7 linked regions of the Homo sapiens genome follow. The protein of the gene in region 5 interacts with the protein of the main gene of each other region in a pairwise test. Each region holds a gene or a part of one and is shown on either strand. Other genes may lie near its edges.

What was found.
Region 1: the proteins of FAM161A (region 5) and CCDC136 interact in binary tests that used the Homo sapiens proteins (3 or more experiments, as listed by UniProt).
Region 2: the proteins of FAM161A (region 5) and KIAA1328 interact in binary tests that used the Homo sapiens proteins (3 or more experiments, as listed by UniProt).
Region 3: the proteins of FAM161A (region 5) and ZRANB1 interact in binary tests that used the Homo sapiens proteins (3 or more experiments, as listed by UniProt).
Region 4: the proteins of FAM161A (region 5) and AXIN2 interact in binary tests that used the Homo sapiens proteins (3 or more experiments, as listed by UniProt).
Region 6: the proteins of FAM161A (region 5) and ZNF276 interact in binary tests that used the Homo sapiens proteins (3 or more experiments, as listed by UniProt).
Region 7: the proteins of FAM161A (region 5) and ROPN1 interact in binary tests that used the Homo sapiens proteins (3 or more experiments, as listed by UniProt).

The regions. Positions count from the first base shown.
Region 1 is NC_000007.14:128,798,219-128,802,640, reverse strand, and holds part of CCDC136 (coiled-coil domain-containing protein 136), read right to left. Parts: intron 1,456-4,422; coding exon 1,132-1,455; intron 1-1,131. UniProt on the Homo sapiens protein: May play a role in acrosome formation in spermatogenesis and in fertilization.
Region 2 is NC_000018.10:36,831,616-36,836,037, reverse strand, and holds part of KIAA1328 (protein hinderin), read right to left. Parts: exon of another isoform or gene 2,650-4,422; intron 1,836-2,649; exon of another isoform or gene 1,765-1,835; coding exon of another isoform or gene 1,719-1,764; coding exon 1,683-1,718; intron 805-1,682; coding exon 662-804; intron 1-661. UniProt on the Homo sapiens protein: Competes with SMC1 for binding to SMC3. May affect the availability of SMC3 to engage in the formation of multimeric protein complexes.
Region 3 is NC_000010.11:124,965,645-124,970,066, reverse strand, and holds part of ZRANB1 (ubiquitin thioesterase ZRANB1), read right to left. Parts: intron 3,474-4,422; coding exon 3,286-3,473; intron 1-3,285. UniProt on the Homo sapiens protein: Ubiquitin thioesterase, which specifically hydrolyzes 'Lys-29'-linked and 'Lys-33'-linked diubiquitin. Also cleaves 'Lys-63'-linked chains, but with 40-fold less efficiency compared to 'Lys-29'-linked ones.
Region 4 is NC_000017.11:65,536,897-65,541,208, reverse strand, and holds part of AXIN2 (axin-2), read left to right. Parts: intron 1-2,865; coding exon 2,866-3,006; intron 3,007-3,373; coding exon 3,374-3,885; intron 3,886-4,145; coding exon 4,146-4,312. UniProt on the Homo sapiens protein: Inhibitor of the Wnt signaling pathway. Down-regulates beta-catenin. Probably facilitate the phosphorylation of beta-catenin and APC by GSK3B.
Region 5 is NC_000002.12:61,840,495-61,844,916, forward strand, and holds part of FAM161A (protein FAM161A), read right to left. Parts: intron 1,867-4,422; coding exon 1,628-1,866; intron 88-1,627; coding exon 1-87. UniProt on the Homo sapiens protein: Involved in ciliogenesis.
Region 6 is NC_000016.10:89,737,615-89,741,425, reverse strand, and holds the end of ZNF276 (zinc finger protein 276), read right to left. Parts: exon of another isoform or gene 3,706-3,811; coding exon of another isoform or gene 3,621-3,705; coding exon 3,521-3,620; exon of another isoform or gene 3,451-3,520; coding exon 3,180-3,450; 3' UTR 2,826-3,179; coding exon of another isoform or gene 2,718-2,825; 3' UTR 2,545-2,717; coding exon of another isoform or gene 2,452-2,544; 3' UTR 2,298-2,451; coding exon of another isoform or gene 2,137-2,297; 3' UTR 1,949-2,136; coding exon of another isoform or gene 1,873-1,948; 3' UTR 1,433-1,872; coding exon of another isoform or gene 1,327-1,432; 3' UTR 623-1,326; coding exon of another isoform or gene 560-622; 3' UTR 501-559; downstream 1-500. Other genes in the region: FANCA (Fanconi anemia group A protein), read left to right, coding at 560-622, 1,327-1,432, 1,873-1,948, 2,137-2,293, 2,452-2,544, 2,718-2,825. UniProt on the Homo sapiens protein: May be involved in transcriptional regulation.
Region 7 is NC_000003.12:123,988,866-123,994,051, forward strand, and holds the start of ROPN1 (ropporin-1A), read right to left. Parts: upstream 3,260-5,186; 5' UTR 3,057-3,259; intron 2,494-3,056; exon of another isoform or gene 2,316-2,493; intron 1-2,315. UniProt on the Homo sapiens protein: Important for male fertility. With ROPN1L, involved in fibrous sheath integrity and sperm motility, plays a role in PKA-dependent signaling processes required for spermatozoa capacitation.

The sequences.
Region 1 (4,422 bases), on a different chromosome or scaffold from region 5:
CTACATTTTCCCTAAGGTCCTTTTCCTGTTTCAGGATCCCATCTAGCTATAAGGTTTTATTAACCAATTTTGATTTCATATCCTGGATATAGAAACAGGCTCAGAGAAAGACCATAACCAGACCTCCTACGTTCATCCTGCTAATTAGTGGAGCTGAGATACTGAACTCAGGTCTGTTTGACTCCAGCCCAAGCCTTCCCACTGTGCCAACCTTCTTCTCCCAGCACCATTTAATCTAAAGGCTCTTCTGAGAGGCTTGATACAGCTGGAAAAACTTGCAGTTCTTTGATTCCTTGTTGATTGCCTCTGCTTGACCTGGCCAAATATAGGACCTCCATTATACTCAGATTATAAATCTAGCCTCAGAATAAAGGCAAACTCTCTGATGTCATGAATCCTAGCAACTAGCTGGGAGACTCACTGTCTGAAAGCAGGGCTCTAGGCTTTTGGGTACCTCATGTATCACTCAGAATAACTTTTCTTCTCTAGCTGTCTTTTGTTCCGATTTGTTGCCCCCCAAAGCTTCTATTTTGAGGAGAGCTAATGGAACCTAAGAATTAGCATCCCTGCACCTGGAAGCAGGGCCAGAGGCCCCCTATAAAGCATTCCAGGCAAAGCACCATGATGCCAGGGCAGCAGGAAGAGTTTCCCAAGGTGACAGGTCCCTCTTTGCCCATCCTAGAGCTGGAAATTTTCCCAGGAAGGGTTTTCCCATAGTCAAATCAACAAAGACCCAATGACTCTCTGAAGAATTCCCAGGGTACCTCTCCATGGTGCTATTTCTTACACCACCATGGACTGGTTATGTAACATCTGGGTAGGTTTTTCCCCTTTACTGTCTTTTTAAAATTTTTATTTAAATTTTTCTTTTAGAAAGAGATAGGGTCTCACTTCATTGCCCAGGCTGCTCATGAATGCCTGGGCTCGAGTGATCCTCCCATCTTGGCCTCCCAAAGTTCTGGGATTACAGGCATGAGCCATCACGCCTGGACCCCTACAGTCTTGAATTCAACCTGGAGGTTTTTTCTAGAGATTCCCAATTCATGATCTAACACCACCTTCTACCATTTTCCTATATATTATCTCCTTTCCTCTGCTTGACTTTACTGACCCACTTGATGGCTCTCATACCTTGTAACCCAGAGTAATCTGAGAGACCTAAACTACCGGATGGTTCAGAGCTCTTCATTTCCATTTCTGCACGGAGGGAGGCGATCTCCATCTCATAATCTCCCCGAATGCGTTCCATGTCTTCAAGTTCATTCTGCATCCGGCAGAGATCCTCCTGCAGGGATGCTATGTCACTCTCATGTTCAGTTGCGGAATCCTCTGCTGCTTGCCGCAGACTCTGGATCTCAGCCTGGGCCAAATGCAATTCCTGTTCTATTTCCTTAAGTTCGCTTTCTTTCTCATGCTCTAACAGGGAAATCTCCTCCCGTAGAGAACGCAGCTCACCTGCAAAGTCCAAAGGTTGAGATGATCAAGAGGGCAGGTGAACTAACCTACCATGTTCTAGAGGCACAAAATTAAAGGGAGACTTATTTCTTGTCTGCAAAGTCCTGAAAACCTTGTCTCTACCCCATCAGAGAAGTGTAGCATCATGCCGGACGGAATAAAAGGAGTACCTAAGAAGGGAAAAGAGAGTGACTCTATGTAGTAAGGTCCAATAGAAAAGTAGATTTTGAGGCCTGGCACCAAAACAATCACTTAGTCTACTGTAAACAAAAAGTATTTCATGCTTCTAAGGAATCACCTGACAGTTAAAGACCTAACTTCATTTATAGTATTTTCTTGATGCCCTGAATCTTTCTAAAAATCCCCTGACTCAAAAAATGTATACAGACTATTTTCACCTATTCATCCTGAGAGCTCAGAAATTACAGAGCCTCAGAGTTCCCATGACCTACCTGTGGTAAGTACTGGACCTAAAACAATGTGCATTTAGAGTTCACAACTCAAATTCAAATATAAGTTCACTGCATAATAACCAAACACGGGATAATAATCTAAGTGTCAGTCGATAAGGGATTGTTTAAATTGATGATAGGCTGGGAGCAGTGGCTCACGCCTATAATCCCAGCACTTTGGGAGGCCAAGGCAGGTGGATCACTTGAGGTCAGGAGTTCAAGACCAGCCTGGCCAACATGGTGAAACCCAGTCTTCGCTAAAAAAAAAAAAAAAAGAAAGCCAGGTGTGGTGGCACGCCCCTGTAATCCCAGCTACTTGGGAGGCTGAGACAGGAGAATCATTTGAGCCCGGGAGGCAGAGGTTGCTGTGAGCCAAGATCGCACCACTGCACTCCAGCCTGGGCAACAGAGTGAGACTCGGTCTCGAAAAATAATAACAATAATAAATAAATAAACTGATGATAGTTAAATAGAATATCATGCAGCCATTTAAAAGAAAGTATCAGATCTATGGTGAAAACAAAGAAGTTTCCATATTAACTGAAGAAAAAGAGCTGTAAAATATATGCTATGATCTAATTTTTGCAAAAAATATTTTATGTATAGTATATAACACACAAATGGACAAACATATAGAAAAAGGCCTGGAAAGATCTATGCCCAAACCATAATGAGTAGTTGTTTCTGAGGTATGGGATAACATGTGGTAAGGTTTTTACTTTACATATCATATCTATCTGTGCTGTTTGGATTTTCAGAACAAGCCTATATTTTCTATTTTTTAATTTACAAAATAATGAGTTAAGAGTTCTCTGTATCTATGGAGCATCTCAGAGTTTCTAGACACATGTACCCATCTGGGATCAGAACGAAAAAGTGGAGAGAGTAAAAGGCACTGACACCAACAGTGAATTTAGGATTTGAGGGCCAGGATTAGAGAATTAATGAGGATTGGGTTGGGAGGGTCAGGATTTTCCCATAAATCCTTTGCAAGGCACATTCTCCCATCCCCTTCCCCCAACTTCTGCTCATTCTACTCACCACTCAGATGTCAACTTTTCTAGCCTGTACCTCCACTTCCTCAAAAAAAAATAAGAGAAGTCCTCTATTAAATGGTCTCATAAAACCTTGTACTTTGCTATATGTGTGTGTGTACTTAAGTCTCCCCTTCACTTGGTTATAAGCTTTATCGAGGCAGAGAGCATATCTGGTTTGCTCACCATTACAGCTCCAGGATCTAGTATTGTGCCTGAAAACGAAGCTCAATAGATATTTGATGTATTCATGCATAAGTAAGGCAGCAGTTCATCTATTCAACAAACTTTTGCTAAGTATCTCTTATGTGTACAGAACTAAACATTTGGGGTTTGGGGGGTTTTCCTTTCTGTTTTTGAGACAGTCTTGTTCTGTTGCCCAGGCTGGAGTGGAGTGGCATGATCATGGCTCACTGCAGCCTTGACTTCCTGGGCTCAAGCAATCCTCCCTCCTCAGCATCCCTAATATCTGAGACTACAGGCATGGGCTACCATGCCCTGCTTTTTTTTTTTTTTTTTTTTTTTTTAATGTAGAGATGGGGGTCTCTTTCTGTTGCCCAGGCTGGTCTCAAACTCCTGGGCTCAGGCGATCCATCTTGGCTTCCCAAAGTGCTGGGATTACAGGCATGAGCCACCACACCTGGCCCTGTTTGGATATTTTTTAAAAATTAGAATAGAATCTAGACTTTCAAAGAAGACAAATTTGGACACGCTTCATAGATAGATGCTGAGTGGTGAGGGCATCTCAGGGGAAGATCTACCCTGCTCCCCTGAGCTCACATGTGGAACTATGGGCATGTCTTTTGCCAATCTTTCCAGTTCTAGAATGATCCTAGCTGTTACGTCTCCTTGATCTATTCAACAACTATTAACTGATCCTTAACTGCGTGCCAAGGCCAAGAATCTCCTGTTAGATTCTCTGACTTCCTATTGGAAGAAAAGTCCGCTCTACCCCCACTACTGAGCAGCACAGTGAGGTCTGTCTAGCTAGGGAGACACAAGAGGAAGCTGGCCATTAGGACAAAGGCCCTAGAGTCTGGGGTGGGTGTTCTGGAGAAACAGACCAACCTCCACCTCCCTAATATGCTTTTGATGTTAGGGTTCAACTCTCTCTTAGGTGCTTCTGGCCCTAAAAAAATGGTATTGTCGGCCAAACACGGTGGCTCACACCTTTAATCCCAGCACTTTGGGAGGCTGAGGCTGGTGGATCACTTGAGATCAGGGGTTGGAGACCAGCCTGGCCAAAATGGCGAAACCCCATCTCTACTAAATATACAAAAATTAGCCGGGTGTGGTGGCTGGCATTTGTAGTCCCAGCTACTCGCGAAGCTGAGGCAGAAGAATTGCTTCAACCCAGGAGGAGGAGGTTGCAGTGGGCCAAGATCTCGCCACTGCACTCCAGCCTGGGTGACAGAGCAAGACTTCGTCTCAAAACAAACAAAAAACTCTACTGAGGAGAGAATCGCTCTGGAACCCTATTT
Region 2 (4,422 bases), on a different chromosome or scaffold from region 5:
AAAGCAACCATAGACAATTATGTAAAACAATGAGCACAGCTGTATTCCAAAAAACCTTTATTTATAAAACAGGCAGAAGGATTTGGTCCACAGGTTATAGATTCCAGAACATTCATATACAAGTTTTGTGTAGACATCCTAGTGAGTGTGAAGTGGTATTGAACAACTCTGGTTGCAGAGGGAAAATATAACAAAAATTAAAGTAAAATAAACTGGTCAGATAGGACATGTGCCAAAGGAATGCACCGATACTATTACTATGCCTAGTCATTGATTTGTCCCTCATCTTTACGAGGGTTCATCTATCAAATAAATTCACAAGAATAAAAATCAAAAAGGATGCCTAATTAAAAAGCAATTCTCATCAGTTTGATTTACCAATGCCACACAGATCAGAATGTAGTTCTTTTGAGACATATCAAGATAATACATTATCATGGCTAATGCTTACAGCAAGTCAGATGTTTTGGAGCAAAACCCTTGAGTAATCCAGATAATTTAGGCTCAAACCTGGCATCATCAAAGGATCCTGGAATCCTCTGTATCTTTTAAGAATGTTTGTTGATCACCTAGTATACTTTCAAAGGTTCTTCTACCCTTTTTGGTCAGCACTCATAAAGACTGGAGAGCAAGGAAAAAAAAAGACGAAAAAAATACTAACCTGTTCATCTACTGAATCTCCTGTGCCTTTTAAGGACTCCATGGAGATTGAAGCATCAGTCACCCTGGAAGTCTTAAGTTTAACATCAGCTTTTGGACTCATCAGCTTGTGTCTTGATCTGACATTTCCTTCAGCAGAAATTCCTAAGGATTTCCATTAAACAAGATTTCAAAATTATACCTTATTATCTTAAACCCTCCCCCATCAACTCCTTCCTTGGAATCCTCTACTTTAAGGGACCTGATGGAGGAAACTCTCTTACTTTATAAACTTAATTTTAAAGCTCTTAATATATGAATCATAAAAAGAATATGTTTTAAAGAAATACACTAAAGATTGAATTGAAATTTGTTTTTATATTTATTTTTTTAAAGAGACAGGGTCTTCCTATGTCTATCCAGGCTGGACTTGAACTCCTGGGCTCAAGCAATCCTCCCACCTCAGCCTCTGGAGTAGCTGGAACTACAGGATCAAGCAACCACATCCAGCTTAACTGAAATATTTGTAAAGGGTACTGTAAATATTCATAAGTCACATTAAAACCAATAAATTACGATATGCCAAATATATGTTAACTTAGGGGAAATCAATGATATTTTTCACCCTATATAATGAGGGTGCCTTCAATAGTTGCTTTACTACCATCTAGTTACAACCATTAAACTTGAAGTGCCTCTTACATATACCCTGTATCAAGCAGTAGTCACACTTTTATTTGAAATATTAAATTTGGCTATCATTTGTAAAAGAAAAAATAAGAAAAGAATCTTTTGCCCCTTGCCACATGAAGTGTTCTACAAGTTCATTAAAAGCTGATTGGGCCAGCCAATCCCAAAGATAAGCCAGTATTTCAAACCTTAATAGGGTTATGACAAATATTCAAAAAAAACAAATTTTAGGTTTTGATGTACTGCTCTGCATTCAGTTATTTATACCCGCAACATTGTTCTAATAGCTTTATTTTCTTCTAACATTTAAGGACCAAAGTAAGCTTCCCAAATTTTAACATAGAAAATCATACCTGGAACGTATACTACTGATTGTTCTTCATCAGAAACTACGCAGGAGAACATGAAGGAAAATACAATAATATTATCCGGCATCCAAATGCTGCTTCTGTTCTGTATACCTCTTATAATTCATAATTTCTTTTGACCTGGGAATTTGTAACTAACTTTTAAAAACAAAGTTAGAAAGCAAAGTAATTGAATTAAAAACAAAGTTAGAAAGCAAAGTAATTGAATTAAATGTAGCAAAATTAATATTCTCTAAAAGTTCACCTTTATATATTCACAACTACACATCTTATAAAAATCTTGGAAGGTCTTGTTCCATGAAACTTTTATCCACTCTCAAGTGGGTTACCCTGCAATATATACTCTACTATTAGGTTCCTTTCCTTTTGTAAACAAAAACTTAAGTGCTCCAGTTTGGTCATTACTGAGGAACTGACAATTCTGAAGAGTAAATAATTTCAAGATAGACTTTAGCTTTGAAGAACAAACACTGAGGGCAAGTCAATCATGCAAACACAAAGACATTATTTATTCTTCTACAGTGTATTCATAAAATATCCCAAGAAGCCCTACTATTTAAAAAGTAGAAGAAATTTAAGACAAAAAGAACTATTTTGAATTTCAAAAGGAGAAATTTAGAAAGGCTATGATTATAACACACTGTTTTCAACTGTCACCTTGATCCAACTCAACTTTTCCTCTCCCAGGATTATTGCAATAAGCTCCTAACTGCTCTCTGTCACTTCTGTGCATGTTCCCTTAACAGCCTATTTTTTCACACAGTGGTTAGAATGATCATTTTAATAGTTATGTCATTTCTAATTTAGATTAAAAGCCAAAGTATTAACAACAGCCTGCAATGCTCAAGATCTGATCCCTGTAACTTGTTACATCTCTGATCTCACTTGCTACTATTCCTCTCACTCATTCCTGGCTTTCTTATAATTGTTAACAAGCTATGCAAGCTCCTACCTTATAGCTTCTGCAGGTATGATTTCTTCTACCCAGGAAGCTCTTTCCTCAAATATCTTCATGGCTCACTTTAGGACTTATGTCATATGTCATGTCATGTCACCTTCTGATTGAAGCTTTCACTTCCTAACCATATAGGTACTTGAAATTGCAAAACTCTCTCTTCCCACAACCTACCTACCTCCCGCTACTATCTGCCTCTTTCCTGCTTTATTTTTTCTCCACAGCACCAATATCATTGAACATAGGCCAGGTGCAGTGGCTCACGTCTGTAATCCCAGCACTTTGGGAGGCCGAGGTGGGCATATCACGAGGTCAGAAAATCGAGATCATCCTGGCTAACACGGTGAAACCCTGTCTCTACTAAAAATGTAAAAAAAAAAAATTAGCCGGGCATGGTGGCGGGTGCCTGTAGTCCCAGCTACTCCAGAGGTTGAGGCAGGAGAATGGTGTGAACCCAGAAGGCGGAGCTTGCAGTGAGCTGAGATGGCACCACTGCACTCCAGCCTGGGCAACAGACCGAGACTCTGACTCAAAAAAAAAAAAAAAAATCATTGAACATATATTTTCCTTATTCATGACCTGATCTCATCTCACTAAAATGTAGGCACCAAGAGGGTAATGATTTTTGTTTTATTTTGTTCAGTGTTGTACCCTCAAACATAAAAGAATGTCTGGCTCCATCTATGAAAGAATAAAATTGGTATTGATTTAATTTTATGAGGTGTTGTCCAACAACCTTATATGTTATATTTCTGTGATTCTAAATATGCAAACAAAACTTTTTTTTTTTTTTTTTTTTGAGACAGAGTCTCGCTCTGCCACCCAGGCTGGAGTGCAGCGGTTTGATCTCAGCTCACTGCAACCTCCACCTCCTAGGTCAAGCAATTCTCTGCCTCAGCCTCCCGAGTAGCTGGGATTACAGGTGCCCGCCGCCACACCTGGCTAATTTTTTTTGTAGTTTTAGTAGAGACGGCCGTTTCATCATGTTGGCCAGACTGGTTTTGAACTCCTGACCTTGTGATCCACCTGCTTTGGCCTCCCAAAATGCTGGGATTACAGGTGTGAGCCACCGCAAGCGGCCAACAAAACCTTTTACTTTCAGCTACATCCATGACAAATTTATTTTCAAATATATAAAACTCTAAACAAACTACTTCAATATTTTTAATAACAATATTTGAAATTGCCTCTATCCTTTCTAATAATTTGTAATGTATTTTCATCTCATTATATTAAGAACCCAAATATTTACCTCCTTCAAATCTAGAATTTCCCAACAAATGTATATTTTATGGGGAAGTCAAACAGACACATTATATACCAAATGTATAGTGGGCCTACTAGTGGGTCATTTCTAGATTATTTATAATACCTAAAACAATGTACATGCTATATAAATAGTAGTTAAATTGTACAGTTTAATTTGTATTTTTTTGTGTGCTATTTCTTTTTTTTCTCAAATATTTTCCATCCACATTTGAATGAATCAGCAGATACAGAGGGCTAACTGTAATTAGAAACCCAGGCAGAAGTGGTAGAGAGGAAGATGCACCTCTATCCCAGACCTCCAGGATTTGAAGGAAATAAGTTCAGTACTGCCCATTCTACTCTAATCTGCTGAGTTTTGCCAGCAATACATGTATATGTAATTATTATCAACCACAGAGACTTTCTGGGCTAATATATTATTTTTACCACAACATACAGTCTTTGTTTCCATTTGAAAACTCAACAGCAGAGATTATACTGCAATGTTTTGACCAGGTCACT
Region 3 (4,422 bases), on a different chromosome or scaffold from region 5:
CCAAAGTAAATTCAAAAATAGCTTATTCCCATCAGCTAGCTCTCAGGCCCTTTCCAAAAACCTGGAAAGACCTTTCCAAAAACCACCTGGACTGGACCCTGACTACCACAAACATTCTAAAAGAAACTTAGCCCCCAAACAACCCCTTCCACCACCATCCTTAAGCAGGATGTGCCCCTGAAGCCTGCCACTCACCTTCTCACCTCCTTCAACCTTATGGTTCTCAACCATCTCCGTAGGCTGGGAGTTCTTAACTTAGGGTCCATGATCTTGGGAATGGTCCATGTACTTTAATGGGAATTTGGTTTTAATTCAAGTTAAATCAATTATCCCCAACTTTTTACCTATATTAAAATGTATTTTCTTATATATCACAAATTTAGTTTAGTATTTTGGTAGCTATTACTTCAATACAACTGATTTCCTTTGTAATCTCATTTACTTCTTATTTTTTGTATTTAAAAACAGTATTCTGGGAAGGAGTCCATAAGTTTCATGAAACTACCAACATGGTCCATGACACAGAAACCGATGAAAATTCCTGCCCCACATACATATCCCCAACTCTAATGTTCTCCTGTTCTCATTCCAAAAGAACTTGGCTGAGCATTCTCTGCAACACACCCCCTTAGTCTAGACTTAGTCCAGACTCCCCCACTTCCAGTCTCCCTACTGGCCCCTTTAATTCTGTCCTTTGGAGTATTTACTCCATGGAGACTGAATCCATGACCAATTTTGCTCTTTGCCTGGAACAAATCCCCTCCACCTCTCCCACGCTGTTCCAGGGTTGTTCTACACGTCCCACGGAATACAGCAAAAGTAATGGTATGTTGCTTCCTAAATCAATTTATAAAAGACACTGCAGGTTTCAAAGACACTGGATCACTCTCTTGTACTCTGTGCCTCTCTTGGATCACTTGTTGGGGGTAAAACCAGCTGCTGTATCATGAGCATCCCTGTAGACAGGCCTGCATGGCACAGTATTGAAGCCTCCTGCCAAAAGCCACCTGAGTGGGCTTAGGAACAGATACTCTAGCCCCAGTTGAGTCTTTTGACAACTACAGCCCTGGACCACTTGACTGCAACCTCATGACATCATGAGCCAAAACTATTCAGCTAAGCAGCTCCTGGATTCTAACCCTCACAAACTCTGTGAGATAACATACATTTGTTGTCTTAGCTGCTAAGTTTCCAGACAATCTGTGATACTGCAATAAATATACTGATGTTCGATCATCATCCCACTGTTACTCCTCAGACTGTCTCAGGAGCTCAATGACTCACAATGGCCCCTCTAAAACCTTGTAATAATCTTCTACCTACCTTTAGGGGAGCCCCTTAAGACTTTCACCCTAGTTCACAACCACCTTCTTTATCCTGGCTCCTGTCACCACCAGCAACTACAACTCCACATTGACAGCCCTTCCAATATACAATAGACAACACAACTAGGCACCACAACACAAATGCAGCCAGGCCTTCGACACTAGAAAAACTCCAATTCTTCTATCTCATGTTCCAAAACCTGGATCCCTCTATCTGAAAAGTTCCCTTCTCCCTTATACTCAATAAGCCTGCCCTTTTGTTTTCATCATGGCCTTCAGTCTCTCAAGCCCCCCACCCCGGCTTCACTGGAATCTTACCAAACTGGACACAGGGGTTAGCTACTACAATCATGTTTCCATCTAACCTTCAAATTTTTTAATCCCCATACAGTGCCCTGCAGTGGTTCCCAAATATTGGCAAATTTGAATAAACAAATATGCAAAAGTATATATGAAAGATGTATACTGACAAAATTTGAATCCACAATTAATATGACTCTCTGCACTTTTACTCTATTTCTCTTACCATTAAAAAATGTTACCTTGGCCAGACACGGTGGCTCATGCCTATAATCCCAGCACTTTGGGGGGCCGAGGCGGGCAGATCACTTGAGGTCAGGAGTTCAAGACCAGCCTAGCCAACATGGTGAAACCCCACCTTTCTAAAAATACAAAATTAGCCAGGCATGGTGGCATGTGCCTACAATCCCAGTTACTTAGGAGGCTGACAAAGGAGACTCGCTTGAACCCAGGAGGCAGAGGCTGCAGTAAGCCAAGATCGTGCCACTATACTACAGCCTGGGCAACAGAGTGAGACTCCAGCTTAAAAAAAAAAAGAAAGAAAAAAAAAACCTGGATAATGTAGTCACATTCTGAATAATTCATACACAATCTCTATCATTGGTAGCATGTACCTAGTTATGTAAGCCAGAAACTGAAGAATCAACTTACATCCACACTGTATCTTCCCATATCCAATCAGTCTACTTCTTCAGACTGAGGGCCTGTCTCAGTCTCTCCAACCCTCTAACCCTCTTCCCATTTCTAAGGCTACCCTTCTGGGTACCCTTCTATGGCTACCCTTCTGCCCTTCTGGCAGAAGTTCTTGCCAGCACCTCTGCAACTCCCTCCTAACCAGGCTCACCCCTCTCCAGTGTGCAGCAGCCAAAACACAATCTGCTCTGCTCACTCCCCTGCGCCCATACCTAACACCATCCAGTGCCTAGGGATAATCTTCAAATTCCTTGACACAGAAGATCCTTCGTAATCCAGCCTCTGCTTATCTTTCAGACTTCCCTTCTCTCCATTCCCAATCACCATCTCAGCCATGCTTAGTTACCTGCAAGTCCCTAGATTCACCACAAATTCCACCATCTCTGCCCCCTGTAAAAATGCTTTCCTCAACTTCCCTTCTCTCCCTTATCCACTTCATGTGGCTAACTCCTAACTCTTTCTCTTCAAATTGCAGCAAAAACATTACCTGCTATAAGAAAGACGACAAGACACCTCAAAACTCTTCAAGTACTGGCATAACACTTGGCATTTACATCTACCAGGGCACAGGCTGCACAGAATTACCTGTTCATTTCTCTACTTTGCTGGAGATTTAATGAAGAAAGAGCCAGTATCTTTACAATTGTATCCCTTCTCAGCCTAGTGCATGGCACACAGTAAATGCACAATAAATATCTGTTAATTGAATGACTAAAGAATGACAGATACATCCCAGGTTTGTATGAACCAAACATGATGAGTCAAACATTGTTGTGACTATTCAAATATTTGAAAGCATATACCCTTAAAAATTAAGTCTCTTAAGTTTAATGTTATTTTTAAAAGGGGGTAAAAGAATTCAAAACATTTTAAAGCTGCTTAGAGAAACATTATAAAATCAAAAATGAAAACTAAAGAACAGGTTTCTTTAATATAAAAGAACATTTAACCAAAACGCCAAACTTACCTCTGTAAGCAATATTGCTAGCATATCCTGCCTCTGAAAACGTATAGCCAAGTGTACAAGAGTATAGCCAACATCAAAGGCAGAAGGACGATTCAGCAAGCGTACTTCATCTGCGGTGAGCTGACGTGCAATGTCTCCTCCTGATGACTTGTATGCTTCTATGGCAGCTAAATCACCTTCTACAACCCCTAAAACAAGCATCAAGATAGAAAAGCATTTAATTCTCATTTTCTTCAAAAAACACAAACCGTAGCAATCACTCCAAAATCTTTTAAGTGTTTCTCTGTGCTTCCTGGATCCTGATGCATCATTTAAATGTCCTATAAGAGTAAGGAAAATAAGTTTTTTCCTTTCCCTTTAAAAATTTTCCTTCCAGAACTAGAACTGCCTAGACATTTACCTTACCATCAGTGCAGGCTCCAGGCTCTGGTGAGATTTAGAGGAACTATTAGGCTGCATGAATTGGATCGAAGATCAATAATCTAGTATGAGAAACCAGACGTAACAAGAGACACTGAGCCCCTGGTTCCGGTCCTGCGTTCATCCTGACTCTGCAGAAACCAAGGAGACAGGGATGTGCTTCCAGCTGGTGTTGAGCTCCTCCTGCCCTTTACACTGCATTCTTAAAGCAGAATCAAAACAAATGCTGAGCTTTCCATACTGCTCTTTAGCTTTGAAACAACTTAGAGCAACTGAAACCATCTTCAGTGTAAGTAAACGTTGGCAACATTTTGATTTCAGATTCTCATAGCCAAGTCTTCCTTATATCCATTAAGAATTATTAATAACGTAAAAATTGGACCAGATGATTTCATATAAAATACGCTAAAATAAAACATTACAATCCAGTTAGAGTAGGGGGGAAACAGAAATATCACTTCTGCCAAATCTATAAAGAACATTCCATTACCACTGAACCATTTTATTAATCTTAACACAAATTAATGTTAGGTAAACACAGTAATACTGTCTACTAAGCAGTCTGGTAAAGTATGGGTATCAGCCTGGGCAAAGAAACAGTAGATTAGCTTCCAATTTACCACAAAAAGTGTTTAAAACAATTTTTAAAAAATTATTTATGGGACCAAATACTTTTAAGTGTTTCCTAAATTACATCAAGACAAATGTGTTTGCTGG
Region 4 (4,312 bases), on a different chromosome or scaffold from region 5:
GTTGAGTAATTTATAAAAAGAAGAGGTTTACGGCTGGGCACAGTGGCTCATGCCTGTAATCTCAGCACTTTGGGAGTCGGAGGTGGGCAGATCACCTGAGGTCAGGAGTTCGAGACCCAGCCTGGCCAACATGGTGAAGCCCCACCACTACTAAAAATACAAAAATTAGCCTAGCGTGGTGACGTGCGCCTGTAGTCCCAGCTACTTGGGAGCCTGAGGCAGGGGAATCACTTGAACCTGGGAGGTGGAGGTTGTAGTGAGCTAACGCCAGTGCACTCCAGCCTGGGCGACAGAGCGAGACTCCTTCTCAAAAGAAAAAACAAAGAAAAGAGGTTTATTTGGTTCATGGATCTGCAGGCTATTCAAGAACCATGGCGCCAACATCTGCTTCTGGTGAAGGTCTCAGGGAGCTTTCAATCATGATGCGCAAGGGGAAGGAGAGCCAGTTTGTAACATAGCGGGAGAAACAGCAAGCTGAGGTTGGGGGGGTGGTGGGCAATGCCATGTTCTTTCAAACAACCAGATCTCATATGAACTACAGGGAAAACTTGCTCATTACTGCAGGGAGGGCACGAAACACCTCCCACTAGGTGCACTTCCACCATTGGGGATCATATTTCAACATGAGATTTGGAGGGGACAAGCATCCCAACTATGTGAGAGGTTTGATGACCTATTTTTGAACCTTTGCATTTTCTGAATTCAAAAAAAAAATTCCCTATCAGAAAGAAACTGAAGCACTTATTTCCCAGAAACTAAGAAATGCTAGATGATCCATGCTTCTCTACAGCTTGGTGAGCTCACTGTATTTCCACTAGAATGGAAGCCCTCTGATGGGAGGGAGTTTTATCTATTCTGTTAACCTCTGTATGCACAGAGACTAGAACAGTACCTGACACATAATAGGTGCTCAATAAACATTTGAGTGAATGAATAAGGAACCTCTGCCCCCCCTTGGGACATCCTCCTGCTCTCTTCACTGGGACATTCTACTTCTTGTGTCAACCACAGGACTCCAAGTCATTTTAGTCAGTGATTTTAGTCATTTATTTATGTATTCATTGACCATTTCTCCTCCTGGCTCCTGAAGCCCTGGAGGGTAGCTGTTCCTTTCCAACTCCAGAACTTGGCTTGGTACCTGCTGGTGAGTCTGTGCCTATCAAATGCGGAATGAACGAAGTGTTTAGAAGTGAGGATCTCCTGAGCAGCTTCTTCCTGTGACTGAGATGGTGGATGAAGGGCTCTTCTGGGACCTCTGCTTTTATTTCCATGCTTGCTAAAGCAGCCAGCACATGGCTGTACTCAAGAGAACTTCCCCATCTACATTCCCATTTTAGGGCTGTGCTGTTTACAACAGCCTCAGATCCAGGTTGCAAGGAGGGGAGGGGAAGAAAGCACCCAGCTCACAGCAGGTGTTTATGAATCCTTCCTGCCAGCTTCAGAGAATCTAATTGGTCTGGTTATGTTGTGTTTAAAAAATTAACACATTGAATTGCTAAACCCATGTTGCATTAGTGCACAAACTATAGCTCTTCTCTGAAAGCTCCTCACACAGACAAGGGCAGACTTACCTTGTTTTAAAATTAGCATATTAAAATTGCTTTTCTGAGGACCTCTAGCATCCCCTCCCTCTACAGATAACAAGTATTGATGACATACTATCATTGTTTTTTTGACTGGGGGATATGTGAGTTAACAAAGAAAAGTTCTATCGCCCAAGCTTGTAAATTAGATGATTTTGTCCTGGGGTGTGCAAATCGACTTTCTCCATCAGGCAGCGCTTTGATCAGGGGCTGCAAGGAGCCAGCCTGTGTGAGAATGGCCACCTACACAGGAGCCTTTCTCTTCTTCCCCAGTTTCTGCAGCTAAGTGGTTGCCGTGGCAAGGCCCATCTTTTCAGCTGGGGGAGATGCTAGCCTTTGCAAGTTAGCTTTCTGCTACCCCCACCCCAGCCCAAAGAAAGGAGCTAAGCAAGAGGGAGATTAGGAAGAAGGAGGTAGAACAACTGGAGAGGTGGGGGGTTGGGTGGGGGGAGCGAGATGACAGGAAAAGGACAGAAAGCTGGGCAGCAGGGGTTCTCTCTGTTTGCTGCTTTTGGCAGGCGTACTCGGTGCCTTTTTATATTCTGCACTTGATTTGGAGATGTTCCCTTTTCCCTTGATAGATCAGCTTCAGGCAGCCAAGCTCAGCAGTGTTCTGCTACTAGCCTGCAGCAGCTTTCTTCATTTTCTGTACAAAGAGAGAGGGAGGAGGGAAGGAGAAAAACGAGGGAGATCGAGGACAGTGTTGAGACACCACCACCTCAAAGGTGCGCAGTGTGCGGCCAGGAAATAAATTACCACTTCTTCTCTGATCCAGGCCGTTTGACTCCCTTTTCCCCCACTTTCTTTCCTCCCACCTCCTTTCCAATCTTATTTTTTTAAATTTTCAACTCTCTTTCTGTTTAGATTCTACTTTCTATTCCTTGAGTTGGTCTCTCCCCTCCCCACCTCAGAGGGCTGCCTTTTTTTTTTTTTTTTTTTTTTTTTTTTTTTTTTTTTTGATGGTTGACAACAGTCTTTGAAGATTTTCTACTTCAAAGTAACTACTGATGGGCTGGTTGTACTACAGAAAGAACAAGCAGGGCCTCTCGGAGTGCGACCAACTGCTCCTGCCCAAGGCAAACGCTGGTGGGGACCATGGCTCTCCATGAGGCCATGGCGCTAGCGCATAAAAGTCCCGAGCAGCCCAGGCCGCCTTGCCATCCACTCTACACCCGAACATGGGTTTGCGGTGCACAGCGCCTGGTGCGGGAAGCTCCGGCCAAGCCACCGCCCACCTAGCCTGCTGAACGTGCCTCCTCCCTTTCCTTTCCACGTCCTGTAGAGAACCCACCGCCTGCCCAAGGAGATGACCCCCGTGGAACCCGCCACCTTTGCAGCTGAGCTGATCTCGAGGCTGGAAAAGCTGAAGCTGGAGTTGGAGAGCCGCCACAGCCTGGAGGAGCGCCTGCAGCAGATCCGAGAGGTAATGCGGCCTAGGCCTTCTTCCTGCTTCCGTCCACGGCGTGAGCGCTCGTATGTGTATGCGCATGTGCATGGGGTGCGTTAGGGTGTGCGCATGTGCGTGGGTTGCATGCGCATGCGCGTGGGCTGCGTGTGGGTGTGTGCCTGGGCGTGGGCTGTGTGCGCATGTGCATGGGTTGCGTGTGGGTGTGCATATGCGTGTGGATATGTGCTTGTGTAGGCGGGCCTGTGCGTGTGCGCATGGGCGTGGCTGTGGGCGTGCACACGGGTGTGCGTGCTCCTGCGTAGGGAGCCGAATGTTGCAACCCCAGGGCCTCTGGCCCTTCTGCTTCCTGGGTCACTTCTCCTTCTGACGTCTTCCCTTTCAGGATGAAGAGAGAGAGGGCTCCGAGCTCACACTCAATTCGCGGGAGGGGGCGCCCACGCAGCACCCCCTCTCCCTACTGCCCTCCGGCAGCTACGAGGAAGACCCGCAGACGATACTGGACGATCACCTGTCCAGGGTCCTCAAGACCCCTGGCTGCCAGTCTCCAGGCGTAGGCCGCTATAGCCCCCGCTCCCGCTCCCCGGACCACCACCACCACCACCATTCGCAGTACCACTCCCTGCTCCCGCCCGGTGGCAAGCTGCCTCCCGCGGCCGCCTCGCCGGGCGCCTGCCCCCTCCTCGGGGGCAAAGGCTTTGTGACCAAGCAGACGACGAAGCATGTCCACCACCACTACATCCACCACCATGCCGTCCCCAAGACCAAGGAGGAGATCGAGGCGGAGGCCACGCAGCGGGTGCACTGCTTCTGCCCTGGGGGCAGCGAGTATTACTGCTACTCGAAATGCAAAAGCCACTCCAAGGCTCCGGAAACCATGCCCAGCGAGCAGTTTGGGTAAGTGCCGGGCGGACCGCAGTGTCCCGTGTGGGGCTTGTCTCCCAGCCAGGTCCATGGGCAGGTGTGAGGTGGGAGCCGCATTACAGGCATTTAGTTTCTAAGAGGGCGGCAGAGTGCACGGCCGGGTGAGGGTGCGGGGAGCAGGTGCATGGGTCTTTCGTGTCACCAGCCCCCCGACTTGCTGAATTGTCTGATTCTAGGAGTCCCGGAGATTTAACCGGGTCTCTGGGTTGGGTGTGGTTCTTGGTTCCCCACAGCGGCAGCAGAGGCAGTACCTTGCCCAAACGCAATGGGAAAGGCACGGAGCCGGGCCTGGCCCTGCCCGCCAGGGAAGGAGGGGCCCCCGGCGGAGCTGGGGCCCTGCAGCTTCCCCGGGAGGAAGGAGACAGGTCGCAGGATGTCTGGCAGTGGATGCTGGAGAGTG
Region 5 (4,422 bases):
TACAAGGAGGAAGACTGGCCTAAATCAGGCTCTGAAAATGATGTCATTAATGAGACAGGGTGATAGGAGTTCTTTTCTGATACAGATCTAAATGAGAAGAATAACTATGTTATACTTTCAGTTGTATGTGACCAAATATAAAAATTAAGAGTTACATATTTTCTTTTTTTTTCTGAGACAGAGTCTCACTCTGTTGCCCAGGTTGGAGTGCAGTGGTGTGATATCGGCTCACTGCAACCTCCACCTCCCAGGTTCAAGCAATTCTCCTGTCTCAGCCTCCCGAGTAGCTGGGACTACAGGCTTGTGCCACCATGCTCAGCTAATTTTCTGCATTTTTAGTAGAGACAGGGTTTTACCAAGTTACCCAGGATGGTCTCAATCTCCTGACCTCGTGATCTGCCTGCCTCCGCCTCCCAAAGTGCTGAGATTACAGGCATGAGCCACTGTGCCCAGCCAAGAGTTACATATTTTCTAAGATCAGGGTATAATCAGAAGCGAGGAGCTGGACAGGGCTTGTAAGAATCATCACTTTTATTTGGAATAGAGCTGGGCAATGCCCATAAATTATCCACTTTGACTCCTTCATTTTACAGGGAAGGAACCTGAGATGGCAGAGGGTCCTTGTGTCTAACCTCTATTAAATTCTCCCCACTTTCCAGAGTCACTGTCCTGAAGCATAGATCTGATCATGTCATTCCCCTGCTTGAAACTTTTTGATAATTCCTCACTGCTACGAAGTCAAGCCTAGATTACAAGCCCTTCGAGACTGGCGCCTATCTTTTCAGTCTTACCCCTCACCACTGGCTACCCCAGTCTCCATTCTGCATTCATATCCAGTCCTGTGAAGTTCCTCACACACGATATGATTTCTCATGCCATCTTGCCTTTGCATACATGGTTTCTGCTGCCTAGAAGGCCAATACTTATTCCTCCTCCAAGACTGAACTCAGATGTGACACTTTAGTGGAAAATTCTGGCCTGCATCCCTCTGAAAGCTTGGCATGACCAACTGCTTCTTCCTCTGTAACACTCTGTTACATCATGCTGTAATGCAATTTTTGGTTCTCAGCTAGTCTCTAAGCTCCTTGAGGGCATCTTGTTTTTGACTCCTCAGCGCCCAGGCATAGTCTGGCACAAAGGAGACATGCAAGCATCGCTGACTGACTAGATGTGTAAGTCTCAGAGCAGGTGAGTTCACAGCAGAAATGGGTCTTGAAATTGCAGACTATTTTGAAAACATAAATCAGATTCATGTCTCCTAGTCCTGAACTCTTTGTACTAGATCTTTAATGAGCTCATGTTAATCCACATATTATAAAGAGCTTTTAAAATTAAACTTTTATATTTACCAGTTAAAATGGCACAGACTAAGTATTTTGATACATGCCCTCAGTTCTATGGGTGGGTCAGAAAGAAAAGACCAAATGGCCACCAAATGACCCTCAAGCAAACGGTCATCCAGTAAGCTGATAAGCCATTAAACATTTTGAATAAAATCCTACCTCTGTATATCGTTGGGAGTACAAAGGGCTATTTAAGAGAAAATATTATGAAGTAACTTTGTTCTGTCCTTTTAAGGATACATTTTATTTTATACTCCACAAATAACATTGAGTTACAAGCTTACCTGGAAGAGTCACTAAGAGAGTCTTCTCTGATGACCACTGGCTGAACTTCCTTTAAATGTAATTTATCCTGGTACATTTTCTCTAATTTTGCCATAGTTTCTATGTGGGCAGCCTTCAACTCTTCTACTTTCTTGAAATACTCCTCATTAGAGTGGTGAATATCAGGAAAGTTCACAAAGTCCTCATAGCTTATCGGTGCATGTTCATCCACCCCAGAAAAGCTGGTGTTCAAATCAGCCTGGTGGGGAGAAAACACTTGATATATAGTGACTGGAGCTGAAAGACAAATTAAGCTGACACTGATCCAAAATGCTGCTTCTTAAAGAGTCCACCTAGTTAGGTTATACATTAATTATGGGCTATGCATATAGAATGAGTTATAGGTTATTTGTGGGCTATGTACATTTTCCCCAGTGATATTTTAAGAACGAGAGGGAGCAAGACCAAACTGTCAGAAAATAAATGTTATTTAATCCATTTGATAAAGGATGGTTCAATTCCCAGATCAACCAACAAAAGGTATAATAGGATAGAACCCAACAACCCTTTACAAAGTATTTCTATAAGGAGCCTCCTGAGTTGTAAGTTTTAACTGAGATGAAGAGGAACACGGTTCTACCTGCTGTAAACCAGGCAACCACAGCCCAATGCTCTCCCTCCAGCTGCGCTCCTGCAGTGTGGCTCCAAGGACTGCCAGTGGAGAGAAGGCAGGGAAATAGAGGAAATGGGGGCAGGGACAAAGTTCTCAGTGGCTTATCAAGGAGCCAGGGAGAAGCCCTCCTCACAGTGGGGCAAGACTTTGGGAGGGAGTAAGAGGACATGGGAGGGGGTAGGAGGGACTTTCAGGGTAGCTGCTTCTGTGGGCACAAAAGCAGTAGCTCCCATGGGTGACCGGGACTTTAGGATGACAACAAAGCAAAGAAGAAAAAATGCTGTAATTATTCAACATACAGATCATGTTTAGAAGGGTCTGACTGGCCTTTCTCCCTCACTCCCTTTACATACCTTTCAGTTTTTTTGTTTGTTTGTTTGTTTTTACGAGACGGAGTCTCACTCTGTCACTCAGGCTGGAGTGCAGTGGCACCATCTCAGCTCACTGCAACCTCTGCCTTCTCCTGCCTCAGACTCCCAAGTAGCTGGGATTACAGGCGCACACCACCACACCCAGCTAATTTTTGTATTTTAGTAGAGACGGGGTTTCACCATGTTGGCCAGACTGGTCTTGAATTCTTGACCTCAGGTGATCTACTCGCCTCGGCCTCTCAAAGTGCTGGGATTATGGGCATGAGCCACCGTGCCCTACCCTTTCAGTTCTTTTAATTGAAGCAACTAAAGAGATAAAACCCCATTTTCTCCATAAATATAAAATTTTTATTATGTTCTCAGTTGAGAAACAGTTGAAATTATTTATGATACTATGCATAAAAGGCTGCCAACCACAGTTTTAAATTTAGCCTACTGTCTGGAACAGATGCAAAATGAAAAAATTTGCTACAGAAAATTATAGATCCAATCTGATAAGACTCTAGAAAATAATCTGTTTAGCTTCTCTCAAAATAAAAATTCAGAAGAGTCAATTATAAATAGTAGTTATAGATGTGGTATTTTTGTTTCCCACTGGAGGCTTCTCAGAAGATATGGTATTTTTTTTAATACGCTAAAATCAGCATACAAGAGGACAATGTTGTACTACTTGGGGTAACTTAAAGAAAACAACTTTTAAAAAATCAGTCTTCAGAGGCCGGGCACGGTGGCTCACGCCTATAATCCCAGCACTTTGGGAGGCCGAGGCAGGTGGATCACGAGGTCAGGAGATTGAGACAATCCTGGCTAACATGGCAAAACCCCATCTCTACTAAAAATACAAAAAATTAGCCAGGTGTGCTGGCGGGCACCTATATTCCCAGCTACTCGGGAGGCTGCAGCAGGAGAATGGCGTGAACCTGGGAGGCAGAGCTTGCAGTGAGCTGAGATCAGGCCACTGCACTCCAGCCTAGGCGACAGAGCGAGACTCTGTCTCCAAAAAAAAAAGCAGTCTTCAATAGAACTTACGTGCAGAAATTTGCTACCAACAACTCTATGAATCAGAGAACTGCTTTAACTATGTCAAACAATTCAATTAAGAGAATTCTCTGATATCTTCTGCTGTTTCTTTATGTGCTTCTCACCATAAACTTCTTATCTGCAGGATGACTACTTTGTGAATTTCCTCATTCATTAAATATTTGGGGGCCATCCTGCAATCAGCTAGCTGCTAAAATGTACGTCAGATTTTTTTTAAACTCTACCTTTGAGGCCAGGCACAGTGGCTCACACCTATAATCCCAGCACTTTGGGAGGCCGAGGCAGCCAGATCACTTGAGGTCAGGAGTTTGAGACCAGCCTGGCCAACATGGTGAAACCCCCTCTCTACTAAAAATACAAAAATTAGCCAGGCATGGTGGCAGGTACCTGTAGTCCCAGCTACTCGGGAGGCTGAAGCGGAAGAGTCACCTGAACCCAGGAGGTGGAGGTTGCAGTCAGCCAAGATCGTACCACAGCACTCCAGCTTGGGTGACAAAGCAAGACTCTGTCTCACTTAAAACAAACAAACAAACAAAAACTCTACCTTTGAGAAGTTTCCAGCTAGCTTAGGAAAGGACATGTATATAAATAATAGACAGCTGACTTAGAATGAGACAGAACACCTGATTCCTGCCCACAAGCTACTTCCAGCTAAGCGGAGAGACAGATGTATGTCACAATGTCAGACACTAAGAGACAGAGGCACAATTCACAGAGGTGAGCCAGACTG
Region 6 (3,811 bases), on a different chromosome or scaffold from region 5:
AGCTGGATCGACAGCAGCGCCCAGGGTTTTGGTGATTATAACCACCCTGCAGGGGTTCTTCTGAGTACGTCTTCAGGTTTCTTGTGTAGTTTTGTTAGAAGGGATTTTAGTGGCTCCAGGGCCTTAGGACCCTAGTGTGCAGCGAGGAGTGTCCACAGAGACCCTGCCCAGTCAGGCCCTACTTTAGGCTGGAGCCTGTGGGCTTATCTTCAAGGATTTTACAAACACTTCTGACAGGAGGCCTTGCAGGGAGATGATGCTGAGTTGGGACTGCGCACAGCCAAGGAGACCGCAGCAGTCTTCTCTTTCTGGCTCTTGTCACTTTTTCAAACTGTTTCTAGCTTTGTTTAAAGGCAAGTGTGAAATGACCCAGCCAGTAGTAATTAATTCTCAATTAAGCTGTCTCTCTAGAAGTGATTGGAAAGTTTTCTAAGATCCACTTAAAGGATTTATGGCCTAGATGTAAAAAATTTCAATTAAAGAGGAATGTGTCAGCCTTATTTAGAATGACAGCACAGGTAATTTTAATGTAATAATAAGTGCACGTTTTTATTTACAGCTATTGGTTTTCCTTTTCTTCTTCTCCTTGATGGGCCTGCTGTCGTCACATCTGACCTCAAATGTAAGTCAGACCTTACCAGCCAAGGTGTCCTCTCCCACTGTGGGCCAGGCAGGGGCACCAGGCAGCCAGCTTCCAAGTCAGGGTTTCCAGACTAGCTCAGGAGCTCCTTGTGTTTGCGGAAGTGTGAGTGAGAACTCCCAGGCCGTGGGTTTTTTTTTTTTTTTTTTGAGATGGGGGTCTCACTCTGTCACCCAGGCTGGAGTGCAGTGGTGTGATCTCAGCTCACTGCAACCTCAGCCTCCTGGGTTCAAGCAATTCTCCTGCATCAGCCTCCCGAGTAGCTGGGATTACAGGCGTGAGTCTGTCACACCCGGCTAATTTTTGTATTTTTAGTAGAGACGGGGTTTCACCATATTGCCAGGCTGGTCTTGAACTGGCCTCAGTGATCCGCCGACCTCGGCCTCCCAAAGTGTTGGGATTACAGGCATGAGCCACTGCATCCGGCCTGTGGGCCTTTCTTTTAATGTCTTATTTGAGGACGTGGTGCAGCAGCCTTGGTGTGGGTGCTCGAAGTCCCTGGCCTCCTACCTGAGCCTCTTCTGTCCAGAGGCCCAGTATTACCTTCTATAGGTAAAACTGTCACCAGTTTTAAGACTTACAATAAGCAAAGAGGAAATGCCCTCTTCTGTGCTGAGGGCTGTACCCTCCTACCCATGGGAGCACCAGGTCGGCCATTCTCAGGGTTGGTCTCCTGCGGTTTACAGAGCACCACAGACCTGCCAAAGGCTTTCCACGTTTGTGCAGCAATCCTCGAGTGTTTAGAGAAGAGGAAGATATCCTGGCTGGCACTCTTTCAGTTGACAGAGAGTGGTAAGAAACACGCTGCTGAGGCACAAATGCGGAGGGCCGCTCTTTTCAGAGGCATCTTGCAAATGGTTAAGAACGAGCCCTCCTTGAGGTTCCTTGCTAAGTAAGTTTATAAGCTCCATTTTAGTTGGGACAGATTAAGCACAAACTTGTTTAAAGCAATAAGATAATTTACTGGCTCACTGGTCAACCCCAGGACCAATGGGCCTATCATGGGGACTGCCTCTCTCTGCACCACACCCACCCTCCTGCAAGAGGTCGACCCCCCCATCCTCTCCCAGCTGCTGACAGGTACCTGGGTATCCTCAGCTCAGGCTGTTCGCCCCACACTATCCCCACAGCCAGGCCTCCCAGGGTACACGTCCCGACCCCCAGGGGTGTCCCCAGCACTGATAATAGGCAGAGATGTCCAGAGTTGCCTGAGCCACTTCTTGGTGTTGCAGACCTCAGGCTGGGGCGGCTCCTCCTCCGTGTGGCCCCGGATCAGCACACCAGGCTGCTGCCTTTCGCTTTTTACAGGTACCTCCACCCACAGGGCTGGTCAGGGCTGGGCAGTGTTTCCCAGACCCCCATCTCAGCACCTCTGGGTCCCGCCAGATGGGAAGGGTTGTCTGTGCCTCTGCTCCACAGATGAGCAGTATCCCTTGGCATCACCTGCTACCTTTCCAGCAGTCTGTAGCCATTTGTCACTATGTCTTTACCTCTAGTCTTCTCTCCTACTTCCATGAAGACGCGGCCATCAGGGAAGAGGCCTTCCTGCATGTTGCTGTGGACATGTACTTGAAGCTGGTCCAGCTCTTCGTGGCTGGGGATACAAGCACAGTTTCACCTCCAGCTGGCAGGAGCCTGGAGCTCAAGGGTCAGGCAGGTGCAAGGGCCAGTCCCACCTCCAGGGGAGCTCCCCCCAGCCGGAGGCTCCTTCTGCCAAAGAATGTTCCGGCACAGCATGCAGACTATGGGGGACACACCAGCCCTGTTTCTGTATGTCTTCTAACCTGTGAGTTTGCCTGTTTTCTCTCTAGGGCAACCCCGTGGAACTGATAACAAAAGCTCGTCTTTTTCTGCTGCAGTTAATACCTCGGTGCCCGAAAAAGAGCTTCTCACACGTGGCAGAGGTAACGTCAAGATGCCCACCTTGGGCCATGTGGGGGACATGAGAATTGACAGCTGCCTGGGCCATGTGCCTGCCTGGCTGGCAATACAACTCGACTATTTCTGCCAGAGCCCCTCCCCTGTGGTCTGAGGCCTAGTGGGCGGCATGGGCTGAGGACCTGCTCCTCTCTCACAGCTGCTGGCTGATCGTGGGGACTGCGACCCAGAGGTGAGCGCCGCCCTCCAGAGCAGACAGCAGGCTGCCCCTGACGCTGACCTGTCCCAGGAGCCTCATCTCTTCTGACGGGACCTGCCACTGCACACCAGCCCAGCTCCCGTGTAAATAATTTATTACAAGCATAACATGGAGCTCTTGTTGCACTAAAAAGTGGATTACAAATCTCCTCGACTGCTTTAGTGGGGAAAGGAATCAATTATTTATGAACTGTCCGGCCCCGAGTCACTCAGCGTTTGCGGGAAAATAAACCACTGGTCCCAGAGCAGAGGAAGGCTACTTGAGCCGGACACCAAGCCCGCCTCCAGCACCAAGGGCGGGCAGCACCCTCCGACCCTCCCATGCGGGTGCACACGAAGGGTGAGGCTGACACAGCCACTGCGGAGTCCAGGCTGCTAGAGGTGCTCATCCTCACTGCCGTCCTCAGGTGGGTTCGGGCTTCACCGCCTGGCCCTCTGTGGTCACAGAGGGGCTCGGTGGCCCAGGTGGTGGTTCCGCCTCCAGGGGCAGGGCCTTGTCCTGGGTCTGTGTCAGCGGGTGCACCATGGACATGTGTACATTGAGGTTGTGGGCCTTCTCAAACCGCCGGCCACACTGGTCACAGGCAAAGTCCAGCTCAGTCTCAGCCTTGTGTTTGGTCATGTGGTACTTGAGGGATGCCCGCTGCCTGCACTGGAACCCACAGACCTCACACCTGGGGGACAGAGGCAGATAAGAAGGTGCGAGGGCCACAGCCCTGGGAGGGGGTCCTGACTCACACTTACTGCAAAGGCTTGGCTCCCGAATGTCGCATTTGGTGGACGAGAAGGTGCTTCCGCTGCTTGAAGGTTTGTCCACATTCGTCACAGATATAGTTCCGCACCTCTGAGAGGGGAGAGTCCAGTGAGTCCAGGCCCCTGATGCTCCAACCTCCCGGGGGGACGACGATGACAATGTGAAACCATCACAGCTGGGAAGACATTTCTGCACATGGTTCACCATGCAGTGGGCCCAAGCAAGGGGCCTATGAGGGCCTCGTTTATTAAGATCTTTAAACTGCTTTATACACTGTCACG
Region 7 (5,186 bases), on a different chromosome or scaffold from region 5:
AGGTATAATAAGTGTCAAGAAGCCTGCACTAGATATAGAAGAACAGAAGAAAAACAGAAGAAAAACTCTTGGATGAGGCATCTAACATCTGCAGGTATTAGAAGGAGGTCAGAAAATACTTTTCAAAGAGTGGTGATATCTGAGATATCTGAACTGAGACTTGGAAAAACCTGGTTTGTTCATTGCTGTACTGCAAGCCCTCAGAAGACAGCCGGGTACAGGGCAGGTATTCAGTAAGCATATGTGTACTTATGAGAGTAAGGAGAGAATTTCATGTAGGTAGAAGGACTTAGGCAAAGATGTGGGGTTGTCAGAAACGTGACAAGTTCAGGGAACTGTAATTATGGAGCTCTAAAGTGGACAAAGCAGGAGTGGTTGGGCCTAAGGCTGGAAATATAGCTCAAGGCTTGGGCTTTTGAACTTTTTGTTGAAGGCAATGGGGAACCACTAGAAAATTTAAGCACAAGAGTCACACAATCAGTGTTAGCTTTAGGTCCGGTTATCAATATTTGCCTCTCAGCTCCAAATTCACCTTGTATTGCCTCCTCCACAAAAATTGAACTAGGTCCTTTAACATTTTTTCCCTTGTCAGCTGTCATAAGGATATGCTTTGTTAGGACAGGGCACTGGAAGGACTGGAGGAGGAAGAGGTTTCTCTTAGGAATTTAGGTATGCTCTTCTTGCTAGGCTCCAGGAACTTGTAGTTTCTCCTATGCTGGGATCCTGTAGCACACAGCTTTTCTAGCATCTGTTTCATGCAGTGTGTGATCTTTTGAGTGCCCAACTGCTGGAGTACACAGTGGCTATCAGTGCTCCATGGCTAGCAGTGTCCCCTGGCACCTCTCTTGGGAAGCTCTATAGCAGAGTGCTGTCAGTGAGTTACCTTTTAGTGAATGGCTTCTCTGGTGTTTCAGAGAGTAAATTTTGCCTGCCTGGCACCTCAGCAATTTCTCTGCTCTCCAGTCAGCTGTGGCCATCCCCTATGCACCAAGCTCTGGGAAAGGTTTCTTCCTTGGGTGATCTATCTCAGGGGTAGTGGTTGCCCCTTATATCTGTGATTCCTGTATATTTTAGATCTCTCCTGACATATTAGCCAATCCTTCATTACTCCAATCCCATCATTAACAATTCTTTATATTGAACTTCTCTTGTTAAATTATATGCTCAAAAAATTACTATATGATTTATTTCTCTTTGTTGGACTCTGAAACACGTTGACTGACAGCTGTGTGGATGAGCTGAAGAGAGGATGGTGAAGCTTCAGGCAGGGAGCCAGGTTAGGAGAATATGGCAGCACTTTTGACAACTCCCAGGAGCTTCACTGCCTTGAAAAGTAGTTGCAATAGGGAGTGATATAAGAGACAAGTATTTAGGAGATAGGATCTACAGGATTTGGTAACTACTGAAGGAGGAGGAGGAGGAAGAAAAGAGGAGGTGGAGGAGGAGGAAGAAGAGAAGGTGGAGAAGGAGGAAGAGGTGAAGGACAGAAAAGTCTAGAGTGACTATCAGTTTTCAAGCTTGGATGACTGGGTGCACAGTGGTGGTACCCTTGTAGAAATAGAAAACACTAAAGGAGGGTCAGGTCAAATTATCCCCCCATGTTCCCATTTACTTTCAGGAGTTCCATGCACTTTTGAATCACAGAGTTGAAATCATAGACTCTCTGAGTTGAAGAGGCACCAAAGCCCAGCTTTCCTGCCTTTGGGCAATAAGGGTCATTTGTTCACATCAAAGAAGTGGGAGAAAGGTCCATTCTATCTTAACATTCCTCAATTCTAACATTTTGTAAAGTTATTTTCCATTTTTAAATCTCTTGATAGTGTAGGTCTTCTTCAATTATACATTCCAGAGCTTATCCATAACCCCAACTCTTTCAATTCAATGCATTTCCTCCTAAGTGAAACCTACATGCCTCTCAATGTAAAATGGAGGCCAACATATACCTGCCAAGTGCTGAAGAATGTAGGTCTTAAAATAGACTATAGCCTTGTTTCAGGGATCTCTCACTTGGTTTTATTGGTATGGGCTAAACAGGGCTTCCGTTTCATAAATGAAAGTCTCCAGTAACATGAATGAAAGGCTCCAGGGCAGAATCTCAGAGGGTTTCTATGAGTATCACTTGGAACCAAGCACAGGCAACTGCACATCCCTGTTTGGGTTTGGAATTGGAGATGGTGGGTTTGGGATGTGGTTACTCTTGTTTGGAATACATTCTCCTCCTCTTAACAGGTTGATTCTTCCTTTGGAGGTCTGCTTAACCTTCCCTGATTACCCTGTCAGTTCCATTGTACATACCCTTCCAGAGCATCACTTACCTATCCTTAGTGTGATTCTTTGAGTAACATGTGTCTCCCCCAGCAAACTCCACGGCAGGACTGGTCAGTTTTTGCTCACCACACCATCCCAGTGCCTAGCCCAGTGCCTGGAACTTAGTGTTCAATAGGTACTAGTAAAAATGAATGCGTGATAGCAGTCTATGAAGTGCTAGCTATAAAATGAACACGTGATAGGAGTCTATGAAGTGCTAGGTATAAAATAATGCGTGATAGGAGTCTATGAAGTGCTAGGTATAAAATAATATGTGATAGGAGTCTATGAAGTGCCAGGTATAAAATAATGCCTGACAGGAGTCTATGAAGTGCTAGGTATAAAATAATGTGTGATAGGAGTCTATGAAGTGCTAGGTATGCCCATGACATCCACATGACAATTCACCCAGAGGTATTTTTATATCCCTGTCGCTGATGAAAAAGCAGAGGTGTGGCTCCTCGGTGGAGGGCTCTGATTCCAAACTCTTGAGCCTCCCAACCACTGTCCTCCGGGTAAGAAACCGTATAATAGTATTCTGGGTACAAAATACGCACACAAATTGGCCAGAAAGCCATAATCCCCCACAGTCACATTCTCTTGAAGATCCCCTTGCCTTCCCCTTGCCCTGTGAACAAGGAGAGGCTCAGAATCCAGGGGGCGTCCGGCAGGGCTCCTCCCTCAGACCAGCGCAGCCCTCGGGGCGCTCAGAGCCCTGCCCTCCCTCCACTTCCCCTCGGGGTGGCTACCTCAGGCTCGCTCCCAAACCGGCTGTCTGGCTTCAGGCGACACCTGGCGCCTGGCCTCAGGCGAGAGGTGTGGGGAGAGACCGAGTGCCTCCCACCCTTCTTAAGAAGGAGAGCAGTAGAACCTCGGCGGGGAGGGCAGCAGCGGCCGGGGGTGACAGCAGCGGCGGGGCACGACCGCCGTTAGCGTTAGACGTTAGCGCTCCGCCTTCGCCTGGCAAACCCTGCGCGGGCTCCGCTGCCAGGTCACCAGGGGTAGCGCCGGGCGCGACGTCACAGAGCCGCCCCGCCTCTCCTGCAGCGGCGGGTTCCCAGGGTCCCGCTAGGGCGCTGCTAGGGGACGCTGAAAGCTGTTTTGGGCTTTGCTGGTGGTGGAAGGACCAGACGGCCTGGAGGGTTAAGGACTGGGCTGGGGACGTTAGGAAACCCGGGCTGGGGGCGTTGGGGGTGGGGCGGAATGTGTAGCCATTGACGGTGCGCTTTTGTAGGTGAGAGGGCAGAAGTGGAGCTTGATCTTTCGGCTTGTGGAAAGTGGACAGGTGAGAATTCCTCAGGAATCATAGTAACAACACTTCTTACAATGAGTTTTTGGTGCCAGGAATTGTTCTAAGTGCATTACACACATGAACTCATTTCATCCTTACTGTCACCCCATGAGGCAAGTACTATTGTTATCCCCATTTTTACAGATGAGGGAACTGAGCACAGAGAGGTTAAACTTGTCCAAGATGACAGTCAGCAAGTGACAGAGTCAGGATCTGAATCTGGGTTGCGTGGTCCCAGATTCCTCACTCTTGACCTTATAATGCTAAGAAAGGGGCATGGAGTGGATAGGAACAGAGCCTGAGATGCCTGGGGACAACAGGGAAAGATAGAAAATATTTATAGGGTAGAATGTGGTCACTGTGCCAGGGCACTTTTACAAACATGATGACATCAAAGTTTCACAGTAAACTCTGAAGGTAGGTATTACCTTCGCTTTGGAAATAAAAAACAGGCTCAAGGCTTCGAGTAATTTTGCCTGTGATCGAACAGCTGGCAGTAGGGCTCAGGGCCCAACTTTACTCCAGGTCTTCCGGTTTCAAGACTGTGTGTGTGTGTGTGTGTGTGTGTGTGTGTGTGTGTGTGTGTGTGTGTGTGTTTTGAGACAGGGTCTTGCTCTGTTGCCCAGGCTGGAGTGCAATGGGGTAATCATGACTCACTGCAGCCTCAATCTCCTAGGTCTAAGCAATCCTCCCACCTCAGCCTCCCAAGTAGCTGAGACTGCAGGTGCTTGCCACGATGACAGGCTAATTTTTATATTTTTATAAACGGGGTTTTGCCATGTTGCCCAGGCTGGTCTTGAATCCCTGGGCTCAAGTGATCCACCTGCCTTGGTCTCCCAAAGTATTGGGATTACAGGTTTGAGCTACCGCACCTGGTCTCAAGACTGTTCGTTTTAAGCACCCAAGGAGGCAAGAAAAGCCCCATCTTTCTCTGCTACATCCCGTGTCACTTCACACCTATTTTAAAGGGGCCCATTGCATCATCTAATCCTTCATTCCATTTATACAACAGTGTGTATTAGTCTAAATAGATTAGTTCACCCAGGCCCTTCAAAGCTTTCTCTGTTTGTGAGATGAAAGCCTTTGTCTCTCCCTAAAGCAATTTTAAGCATCAGTGAACAAGTGGGGGAACTAGATTTTTGGGTTACGCATGCAGAAAGCTTTTCACAGCCTGTTGTCATCCATTTGTAAAGAGGCCACTCTGCTGGCATTTGTCAAAATCCTGTAGGTCCTTGCACACCTGGAGAATCCTGGATGGTCTGGGGATGGCCACTGCCCACAGGGCAAGATCTGGGGATGAAAGAAACCTAGTCACTAGCTATCACCTGCCTTTCTGAGGCCTCTGTGGAGGGGCTGCCAGGTGTTGGTATAGGCACTTGACAAACAGGGTGTGCCTTAGGTTGGGAGGGGGAGGCTGGAGGCTTGAGGGCTGCAGGTGCATCTTCCAGGATAACAAGAATGCTCTGGCCACTGGGGTCTGTTCTGTTGTATGCACATGGGATAAAGGTGTGCCAATCTCTTCCTGCTTTCATGCAGAGTAAATAATGCTGACAGGAGTGAATAATAATGATCTTTGTGCAGAAGAAGG